Regions from separate parts of the Homo sapiens genome. Here region 2 is linked to region 1. Evidence: fine-mapped expression QTL. A gene starts in region 1. The other region holds a variant in brackets. All regions are shown on one strand. Distances are between the middles of the regions. Region 1 holds the start of ZNF503-AS2 (ZNF503 antisense RNA 2). Region 2 overlaps LRMDA (leucine rich melanocyte differentiation associated).

Region 1 (5,370 bases):
CGACACCTAGACGGCCGCGCACTCAGTAACCAGGCACACATGGACACACCCGAAGGATAAGAGTGCTTCACAGACGCGCTGCCCCGCAGAGACAGCGTAGGACTGTCCCGCCCTCCGAAACGCGCACCTGGGACTTGCTCCCCGGAGACCAGACAACCGCCTCCCTCAGCGTGGGGCCTCGCCACCCGCTCGCCGACTCACCTCCCTCAGATGTCGCACGGACACTACAAACCCCCTTGAATGCAGGTGTGCTCTTACACGCTCACACTGACAAACACCAGCCCCAAGCACACACCGCCTCACTCCCCTCTTCTCTCCAAATGAGCTTCAGTCAAGTTACCATTTCATAAAGTTTACCAACCCAAAGAATCAAGGGATAAAATCCAAACGCAGAAAAAGAATGCCTAGGAGCAAATTCTAAAACTCACCCCGGAAAGTTCTCGGTACCCGTGCGGAGTGGGAGACAGAGAAAGAAGCCGGGGAGGGGAGTCAGGTGGGGGAGGGGAGTGAGATGGGCCAAGAGGAGAGGGCGAGCATACCAAGGGCAGTTCCAGACCCGACCCCCGCGCGCACCCGGCTCAGCCCCAGGTGCGCGCCGGTCGAAACCGGGTCTCCAGGCTCGGCCCCCGCCCCCCACGCGGGCACAGACTGGCTCCCGACTCCCAGAGCTCCCAGCCCCACCATTTATCAAAAGGACTTGACAACAAAAGAAGAGCCGGGGCGGAAAAGCGGAGGAGGGGAGATTCAAAGTCTTCTAAGTCGTTCCGAGGAAGGGGGTGTGTCCTCCTCCCCACCCCCTCTAATTTCTGCGAGTTCCTGGAGGAGACCCTCGAACCCGCTCCGGACGCTATCAGAGCCCCGATAACTCACGCAGCGCCACAGGCATGCATACACACTGGGCATCCAGGTCCAGGTACCCGGTGGCACGCACAGCGCCTCCCCTTTTCTTCCCAAACAACCCGAGTGACGGTGCAAATCGAGGGGAACGCGGCAGTCCCGCTCCGCTTCCCTGGAAGAACCCGCGTTCCCACAGGCAGCCGCCCCCTCCCTCTCTCGCTCCTTCCCTCGGCTCTCCTAGCGCAGCTCATTCCGACTCGGCGTTCCAATAAATTCGAGAGAGCAGCCCCGAGTTACCCTGGCTCCCCAGCCTGCGGGGATGGCGGCAGGTGGGAGAAGGTCGGGGAGGGGGCATGAGTGAGCCTGAGATGTTTCTTCCCCCATACACCCATGGCCAGGCCTCTTCTTCGCAGCCTCTTAGCCCTGCTTACGACCCGAGGGGGTCAAAGAATTGAGGCGAGGTTTGCCCCACCATTGACCTCCAGGACTAGAAGTTCCTTGGTGGTGTGGCTCTTAGAAGTCTCCGAGTTTGGGGTTAGGGAACTACAGAGGGTGGCAGCCTGACCTCCGCACGCAACACGCCCCGCGAGGACTCGCGGCGGCGGGGTGGGGTGGCGGGAAATCTCCCGTGTTAGAAGTTGCCGCCGCTGGTCTCGGGTACCCGGAGCCGCGCCCGAACTCCGCGACCCCAACAGACCGAGGCTCCCAGAGGTGGAAGGGCGTCTCTCCGACACCGAGAGGGCAGGCGCACACTCCAGGCCTGCGCGCCCCTCTCGGCGCCCTGGGCGCACCTGCGCACTTTACTCTCGCTATTCATTTTCCTGACACCGTGCGCCTCTTTCATTCTTTTTCTTAGAGCCCCCACCCCACCCCCATCCCAGGAGGCCGCTCCTCTTTTCCCCTCCTCCAGTTCCCTCTCAATCTCCTCCTTCCTCTCCGTCTCTCTCTCCCTCTCTCTTTTTCCCTTCAAGTCGCACCCGCCTTGTAATCAGCAACAAAAGCTGACATAAATCACGGGAGGATTGACAAGAGCTGACAAATAACTGATTGATTGCGGTCGAGGAACATTGACAATTGATGGAGGGGTGGAGATGCCCAAAGAAGGGGGGGAGGGAGGAAAACAGGGTGGGAGAGTAAGAATGGGGGGTTGGGGGACAGACTGAGGGTGAAACAGAGGAAACATGTGACCCCCGCTGCTGCCCCAATCTACGCGTCCCCGGGCGTCACGTGGCCGGGAAGGGCGGAGAGCCCAGCGCTCCTCGCGGTGTTGAGCCGCCGCCGCTGCGACTGCCCATCTAGCTTCTGGTTTCTCCGCCGCGGAATCTGAGGAAATTAGAGCGGGCGGGCGGGCTTCTTCCAGCTCCGGCTCCCCACCTTGCCTTCTTACCCTGGTGGCTGCGCTGCGCCGCGCGGGATCTCGATTACTGCGAAGGAAAAAACACTGGGTGTGCAGGTTCCCTTCGCCCCTGGAGTTGACAGTCCGGCCGGTGTCCACACTCCCACCGGTGCTCCTTCTGGACACCCCCCGCAGTCTGTTCCTCACGCGCACCCCCCTTCAAAAGAAGGTTTCAGTTTATTTTCGAGCTGGGGAAAGGAAGAACGACGAGGAGGAAAAAAGAGGGAGGCGGCGGATGGCAAACGTAGAATAAATGTCCATCTCGTCCTCCCAGCGAAATCGAGGGAGGGGACACACAGGGGGGCGGCGAAGAGGGAGCTGCCCATTAAAACCGGCACTGAGAGTCCTGGCAGCGGCGGCGGCGGCGGCGCGGGACGCGTCACATCCCCTTGACCCTCCAATCACCTCGGGCTCCCATTTGATTGGAAGGCGGCAAAGGCTTTAATCTCCCCCTTGGTGCAGCTGCTTTTGAAGTGAGTTTCCTCGCCAGAGCCCCGGCTGGACACGCAGCGGCTCGCATCGCAGAGCGCAGCGCCGGCGCGGGGCCGCGAGAACGCAGCGCAGGGGAGCAGCCCGAGGCGGACACCGCGAGCCGCCCGGCACTCCCGCAGTCCAGCCGGCTCCTCTAGCCCGGCCACGGCTCCGCTGCGGGCCACCCAGGATTACTCGCGTCTGGCTCCAGGCGCCGAGAAGGCGCGCTGGGCGCCCGTGGCCGCCGCGCCAGCTCCTCCTCCTCCCGCTGCTCCTGCTCCCGGGGCGAGCGCGCAGCCCCGAGCCCGCCCCGCGCCTCCCGGAGCCCTCCCCCCCGCTGCTCCCATGCGCGCGGGTGGGTCATGAGCACAGCGCCCTCGCTTTCTGCCCTAAGAAGCAGTAAGCACAGCGGCGGCGGCGGCGGCGGAGGCGGAGGCGGCGGTGCAGACCCTGCCTGGACCAGCGCGCTCTCTGGAAATAGCTCCGGCCCCGGCCCAGGCTCGTCCCCGGCCGGCAGCACCAAGCCTTTTGTGCACGCCGTGCCCCCCTCTGACCCCCTGCGCCAGGCCAACCGCCTGCCAATCAAGGTGCTGAAGATGCTGACGGCACGAACTGGCCACATTTTGCACCCCGAGTACCTGCAGCCCCTGCCTTCCACGCCGGTCAGCCCCATCGAGGTAAGGACCCTCTCTCTGGATCGCACTGGGACCACTACCCTGGCTGCCACCCTAGGGCTTTCTTTTTCTCGGGATCTGGGCGGAGGTGGGGGGGTCGGAGTGATTCAGCTCCCGAATGGGGGAAGAGGCTACTGCTTCCGTACCTCAAAACTAGGGCGGAAAAGGGGGAGGAAGTGGAATGGGGCGTGCATGCTAGGGAGCAAGGCTGCCAATACTTGTTTCTCCTTTCGATATGAAAGCCCCTACCCCGACCCAGGCCCCTTCACTCGGCACCGAAGGCAGGCGGAGGTCTGAAATACGGTTCCAAAGTCGCCGTCCTTCGTATCCGCAGAAGCCAGTGTGTGCACACAGCCTCTGAGGCGCCAGCCGCCCGAGCCCTTACTCTGAAGAATTAAGGAGTGTTTGTGGGGAGGGGGTACAGTTCTGGGTCTAGGAACCGAAAACCAAAACATTTTGCTCTTTAAAAATCTAGTTAGCGCTCAGAGAGGGCAGGAAAGATGCTGCTGGGGGTGGTGGTTGGGCGGGGGGAGCAATCTGCTGCCTTTCCCAACGGCGAGAATGTTTGTGAGTGGGTGTTGAAGAGGGGGTGCCGCCTAGAATTGCGCCTTGGGGCTGGGAGGATCTTCGTGGGCTGTTGCGGAGAGGCATTTGAACCCCAGAAGCCAGGATTCTAAAGGGTTTCCACTTCTTTCTCTGTGTGACGCTCCCCCCCCATCGTCTGACCCCGCAGCTCGATGCCAAGAAGAGCCCGCTGGCGCTGTTGGCGCAAACATGTTCGCAGATCGGGAAGCCCGACCCCTCGCCCTCCTCCAAACTCTCCTCGGTTGCCTCCAACGGGGGCGGCGCGGGCGGTGCCGGCGGCGGTGCTGCGGGCGACAAGGACACCAAATCGGGCCCCCTGAAGCTGAGCGACATCGGCGTGGAGGACAAGTCGAGTTTCAAGCCGTACTCCAAACCCGGCTCGGATAAGAAGGAGCCGGGAGGCGGCGGTGGAGGCGGTGGCGGTGGCGGGGGCGGCGGCGGGGGTGTTTCGTCGGAGAAGTCGGGATTCCGGGTACCGAGCGCCACCTGCCAGCCATTCACGCCCAGGACAGGCAGCCCGAGCTCCAGCGCCTCGGCCTGCTCGCCGGGAGGTATGCTGTCCTCGGCCGGGGGTGCCCCGGAGGGCAAGGACGACAAGAAAGACACCGACGTGGGCGGCGGTGGCAAGGGCACCGGGGGCGCCTCGGCCGAAGGGGGACCCACGGGGCTGGCACACGGCCGGATTAGCTGCGGCGGCGGGATTAATGTGGATGTGAACCAGCATCCGGATGGGGGCCCGGGAGGCAAGGCTCTGGGCTCGGACTGCGGCGGTTCATCGGGCTCCAGCTCCGGCTCCGGCCCCAGCGCGCCCACCTCCTCCTCAGTGTTGGGCTCTGGGCTGGTGGCTCCCGTGTCACCCTACAAGCCGGGCCAGACAGTGTTCCCTCTGCCTCCCGCGGGTATGACCTACCCAGGCAGCCTGGCCGGGGCCTACGCCGGCTACCCGCCCCAGTTCCTGCCACACGGCGTGGCACTTGACCCCACCAAGCCGGGCAGCCTGGTGGGGGCGCAGCTGGCGGCGGCCGCGGCCGGGTCTCTGGGCTGCAGTAAGCCGGCCGGCTCCAGCCCTTTGGCCGGAGCGTCTCCGCCGTCCGTGATGACAGCCAGTTTGTGCCGGGACCCTTACTGCCTCAGCTACCACTGCGCTAGCCACCTGGCAGGGGCGGCGGCCGCCAGCGCTTCTTGCGCACATGATCCGGCTGCTGCGGCTGCGGCGCTGAAGTCCGGATACCCGCTGGTGTACCCCACGCACCCGCTGCACGGTGTGCACTCCTCGCTAACGGCCGCCGCGGCTGCTGGCGCCACACCGCCCTCCCTGGCCGGCCACCCCCTCTACCCCTACGGCTTTATGCTCCCTAACGACCCACTCCCCCACATCTGCAACTGGGTGTCGGCCAACGGGCCGTG
Region 2 (5,370 bases), 36 kb before region 1:
CTTCTAACACCCAAGAGAAATAGTGTTGCCTCCCCTGCTCTTCCCTCCAATTAGGTAAATAAAGAAGGTCAAAGGTGATCCAGTCCCAAGCACACCCAACTCAAGTCAGGAGTGCTTTTCTCCATTCTGGTCTGCAACTGACTCCAGTGTAACCAAGTTCTTAAACACAAACTTTTTCTGAACCTTAGACCTCACCCCTCCACTCCTCATCCCTGCCCAAACTCAGCTACTGTCCAGTGTGGAGTTCACACACTGACCACAACACGGACAAGAACAGGCTCCTGACCAGATGTGAAACCAACTCAAACTCAACACTACAGAAATGTCTCTCCTCTCAACAAAGGAAAATACAAATCTTCAGTGCTCTCCCTCTGAATCCACTTTTCAGCCACCCCCTTACGAAATTTTCCTGCATCTAGTATGTGTCATTTCCTACAATAAATCCATATAGATCCAGCCCCTCAGAGCCAACAGCCCCTTCTTGCCACACATACACACCTCCCAAGGTCCAGTACCTCCTCTCCCAAAGAAAGGCAGGGCCCCTGGACATCACAAAGATGGCTGTGTTTCCTCAAACCCAATAGCCCAGTCCCATGATCCACATGCACTGATGCTCCCTCACGGGGTCCAGCCTCCTCAAATCCACATCCGGCTCCCACTAACTACTCAGGGCAACCACAACCCAAGCTCCAGTGCCCTGAGCCCCTGGGGGCTGGTCACACAGGAGGAACTCCTTCCATGCCCAGGAAAGGAAGCCTTTTGCCTAAGTCTGCTCTGGGAAGCTGGAGCACTCAAGGCCACGCACTCGGTCCTCTCCTTAGGTACTGGAACAAAAAACACATCCTTCATTTCTCTAGAGTCAGCATGTATTTATTTGGCTTCCTCTCATCCCTGTGTACTACTTTACAACTTGTCAGTTTCCACCTCTCCCCAGATGCACACAAACCCTTTGGGAGTAAGGAAGAATACACAGACAGCGGCCACTCTCCATCCACTACAACCCTCAGGGTGCCCCTTTCCTGGAAACAACACAGCTCTGTGTGGCCATGTGCTCCCGAGCAGCATCCAAGGAGTTCCGCTGGCTGACCTCAAACAAATCCTCTTCCACCTCTCGTGCCTTATTACCCTGAGTTGTGTTCATTTTCCAGAGTTGTGTTCCATTTTCCAATTACAAATTCCTAATTCCCAAGTATCCTGACTCAGCTGTGGGAAATGAAGACTCCAAGGCCTAGAAGCAGGAAAGTGCTTGGGCCCTGGAATGGAATTCAGGTTCTTATCTCTCCTTTGACCCCAGGACAGTCTGTCCCACTCAGAGGGCAGCACAGCTCTCAAGGAGGGCATGGAGGAAAAAGCCCTGGGTGGCACCAGCTTGTTAGGAGGAAAAGCAATCGTCCTGCCTGACCCCTGCTCTTATCCCACTGACACCTGCTTTCCAAGTACCTCTTACTTCTTTCCTCCAAGCCCCCAAACCAGGCGCAAGGCATAACCTTTTAGGGAGAAAGGAAATAACTGCCTGTATTCTCCACTGGAATAATATACAAGATCACACTTACCTTTGCCAAGACTGGAACAGTTGTCAGAGAGTTTTCCTCCCACCCACTCCACACCAGCAGTATTTAAATTGCTTTGAAACACCATCCGGGAGAAATTATCATCACAAATATTTAAAGCTCCCATTCATAAAAAGACAAAAGAAAGAGAACACACACATACACACACCCTACCTGTGACTCGACGAATGTTTTGGGACATGTGTTTATCCTAAGAAAGCACACCTAGACACCCCAAAACACTCTTGCAGGCTTCATCTCATTCCTTCCCCAAGAGTATTCTGACCTGTCTGCACAGGTATCCGTGAGAAATGAAAAGAACACAGTGAAAATATGACGGCTCTCTCATAGGAACTCGTGTGAAATGGATGAGGCTCAATATGCTGCCTGCCTCTTCAGCAGCACAAAAAAAGGCAGCCAAGGAATCACCGGACACAGTGAAACCTTTGGGGTGTGATTCCACGCATCTCAGAGCCTTCTGCTGAATAAAAGGACAACCCATGTGGAGTTGGAACATTTGACTTTTATCTGCTTGGCCCTAAAGTACCCAGGAGGACTGGGCCTCCCAGGCCTGGCCTACATCTTGTGAAGGTTACATACCTCAGAAGGTTAAAGCTCAGATCAAGCCTCTTTGCGAAATGTCCACAGTCCCTGCCAAGGTGCTCTGGAATTTCTCTGCAGTCCTGGCCTATGTAGGACACCTGGAAATTAAATGGAACAGAAACAATGTGGCAAATGGAAATCACCCAGCTGCTCCCAACCCTGAAATTACTGATCCAATGATTGCTTCTGCAACTTGAAACACATGTTTCTCACACACAAAAAGGCCACACTTGTGACTGTTTCCCTGATCAAATCAGCTTTGGGGGCTCCAAGGACTCCACCAACAGCTCCCCTTTCCTGGTGCAGTTAACATGATGAAGACTAATCCCAGGACAATGGAAATTGGACTAAAATTGGCCAGATTCAGGTGTCCAAAAGAAACCTGAATATCAGGGCACATTGATATAACCGCAACAATCGCCCTCTCACTCAGGGGCTTTTGCAACAGTTGCTCCTCTGCCCCTTCTTCTCCCTCTCCTCCACTGCCCTCCAGTACCCTGGTATGCACATTACCTCATAAAAGACACAGCAGATGCACTTACCAGCATCCAACCTTCAGGGTGCTGGAACAAATAGGGTTGGAAAAGAAAACCTCCCCAGACCACAAATCCCATCCAGTTGCCACTGTGTACAAAATGCCCTCCACACCCAAACAAAGCTGATTTGAAGGCAACAGGGCAACAATGTGTGTCCGGGGCTCCTGAATGTCCCTCCTCCAGAGGCCCTTTGGCAGTCAATCCCACTCTGTGCACAAAGCTGTTTCTTTGGGCATTCTTCTATTTATTACAGATTATTTATTATTAAGTACCTGTATGTGCCCAAATATTAAAAAGCTGAACTGAACTGAATCTGAACTGATTCCAGAACCTGTGAGAAGGTCAGTGGACTTTCTCACTACCCTAATCACCCAGTTTTTGGAACCCATTTTTACAGACAGCACTCTGTGGGCAGATTGGCAACTAATCCTCAAACCATAAAATAAACCCATGAGGCCGAGTTGACCAGTGGGCCACAATGCATGCTGTTTCCCTAAAATACAACATGCTCAACCCCCAGCTTGAAATTCAAGCCCAAGACAC[G/A]GCTATAACCTTCTTCTGGTTTCCCTACAAATCACATTCTTCCACACATATAGACAAAGATCTCTTAGAATGAGAGAGAGAGAGACTCCCCAGGAGGGTGTTTCCTCATGGGAAACAAGACTATGGTGGCCATCTTACATCCTCAGATATTAGGTTCAACTATGTGAACTACCAATATCCAACCATTTTAGAACCACAAAATAGCTCTTTTACATGGTGCAACCTAATACAAGCTGCACTGAACCCTGACACCCTCAACATCTCCAGTCATCTCTCAACCTTCTCCTATCCAATGAGGACAAACTGCTGACAATGCAATATCCTATATCCACTCTCCTTCAGTAACTTCATTCTAGGAGGAGAGAAAATAAGGAGAAAGGATAGAAAAATAGCTGACTCCAATAAAGTAATTTTGACTCAAGAAGATATAGGCTAAAAAATAAAGGACTCTAAGTTCAATCTAGCAATCTCTCCTCTTTCTACCTGGGGTCCATCTTTCTTCACAGTTCCTTGTGTAATAAATTAAGTTCTGCTTCCAAGCTGAGACAGAAATCATATGCCAAAGAGAGACTGTGGCTATAAGGCCCTATTCTATCTGGGGACTTCGATTTCCCTCAGGATCTCTGCTCAGTCAGCAGCTTCTTGGCCAGGCGCGGTGGCTCATGCCTGTAGTCCCAGCACTTTGGGAAGCCGAGGTGGGAGGATCATGAGGTCAGGGGATCGACACCATCCTGACTAACATGGTGAAACCCCATCTCTACTAAAAATACAAAAAATATTAGCCGGGCATGGTGGGGAGTGCCTGTAGTCCCAGCTACTCAGGAGGCTAGGGTAGGAGAATGGTGTGAACCCTGGAGGCGGAGCTTGCAGTGAGCCGAGATTGCACCACTGCACTCCAGCCTGGGCGACAGAGCCAGACTTGTCTCAAAAAAAAAAAAAAATTCAGCAGCTTCTTCTGTATTGTACGTTCACAATGAACCCCAGGTCCATGGCGCTCACCAGAAAATCCATCCCATTCACCCCAGCCTGCACTACTGTCTTGCACATATTATCAGTCAAGACCTCTGTGATATATATAGCAGAGACGTTGAGTTTTAGATGCAGAAACTGGGCTCTTTCCTCTTAGAATGGCCAAGGACTAAATCTAATAGACACCCAGTTTGTCAAAACTTCTGATGTTTTATACAAGGAAACTAAGACTCCAGAGCCCTGCCCAGCACAATACAGCTTCTTAGTGATAGAGCCCAGATCAAGTCCTATGCCATAAATAAGGACTTCCAACTTGGGGGCCATGGAGTGCTTACAAATCCATGTGTGGGTGTGAGATTTCTCTCTCTCTTTTTTTTTTTTTTTTTTAAAGAGATGGGGTTTCACTGTGTTGCTCAGGCTGATCTCAAACTCTGAACTCAAACAATCCCCTCGCCTCAGCCTCCTAAAATAGCTGGAATTGCAGATACAAGCCACCATACCAGGCAGACATGAGTTTTCTTGATCAGCAAATGCCAGTGGTGCATCTATCATCATGTTTTGGCTTCAAAATGAGTCTTCTGAGCTGAAAGGGCAAGAACTTCTCCCACGGTGCTACACTGAGGACCCAAGAAGAGTGTTAGAGCCTGGGAAAAGAGAGGGATATTTGCTTCCCTTTTTCTTCTGTAGGAATTCCATTCAAAGGAAACAGGAGCACCAAGGAGAGCTATCATAAAGCATTTGGATCACTCACAACATCTGATGAGACTGTCAGCAGCCTGTTTCAGTACATGGTCTTAACTATACAACATCCCAGGAAGACTAAGAAAAATACAAGTTGTTCTCACTGTTCTCAAATGTGAAGACCAAGTCTCAAAAGTTTAGCATGAGAACCAACTCGATAAGTAATCTGCATGCTTAGATAACTCCTGTGGTAAAGTAGAAGCTTTTAGAGATGTGAGTTAAGCCGACCAGGCTGAAGGGCTCAAATCAGCTGGAAAAGGCTTAAAAGCAGCAAGCAGCCACTGCCAGACATTGCAAGCAATGCTTGAAACTAGAAAAAAGACTTAAGAAGTGCTTCTGAGGGAAGACATTACCTCTCAGGATGTCAGGAAGCTTCTTAGAGCACAGGACCACCTAATGTAAGATTCAAGGCCAGAAGAGCCAAACCA

The links. PIP is the estimated chance that this variant, and not a neighbour inherited with it, causes the effect.
Region 2: its variant is fine-mapped to the expression of ZNF503-AS2 in whole blood (TOPMed, PIP above 0.99).

Annotation. Positions count from the first base shown.
Region 1 is chr10:75,399,116-75,404,485 of GRCh38, reverse strand. It overlaps ZNF503-AS2 (ZNF503 antisense RNA 2), which reads right to left and starts at 2,958. Exons shown (of 2, transcript NR_024421.1): 1 at 2,225-2,958. It overlaps ZNF503 (zinc finger protein 503), which reads left to right and starts at 2,722. Exons shown (of 2, transcript NM_032772.6): 1 at 2,722-3,381; 2 at 4,112-5,370. The coding sequence starts at 3,067. RefSeq lists an enhancer at 3,220-3,720.
Region 2 is chr10:75,435,275-75,440,644 of GRCh38, reverse strand. It overlaps LRMDA (leucine rich melanocyte differentiation associated), which reads right to left. Exons shown (of 7, transcript NM_001305581.2): 2 at 2,151-2,251. Among named protein-coding and RNA genes, the nearest start is that of LRMDA, 6.3 kb to the right of the region's middle. The variant G/A (reference allele first, on the strand shown) is at 3,233.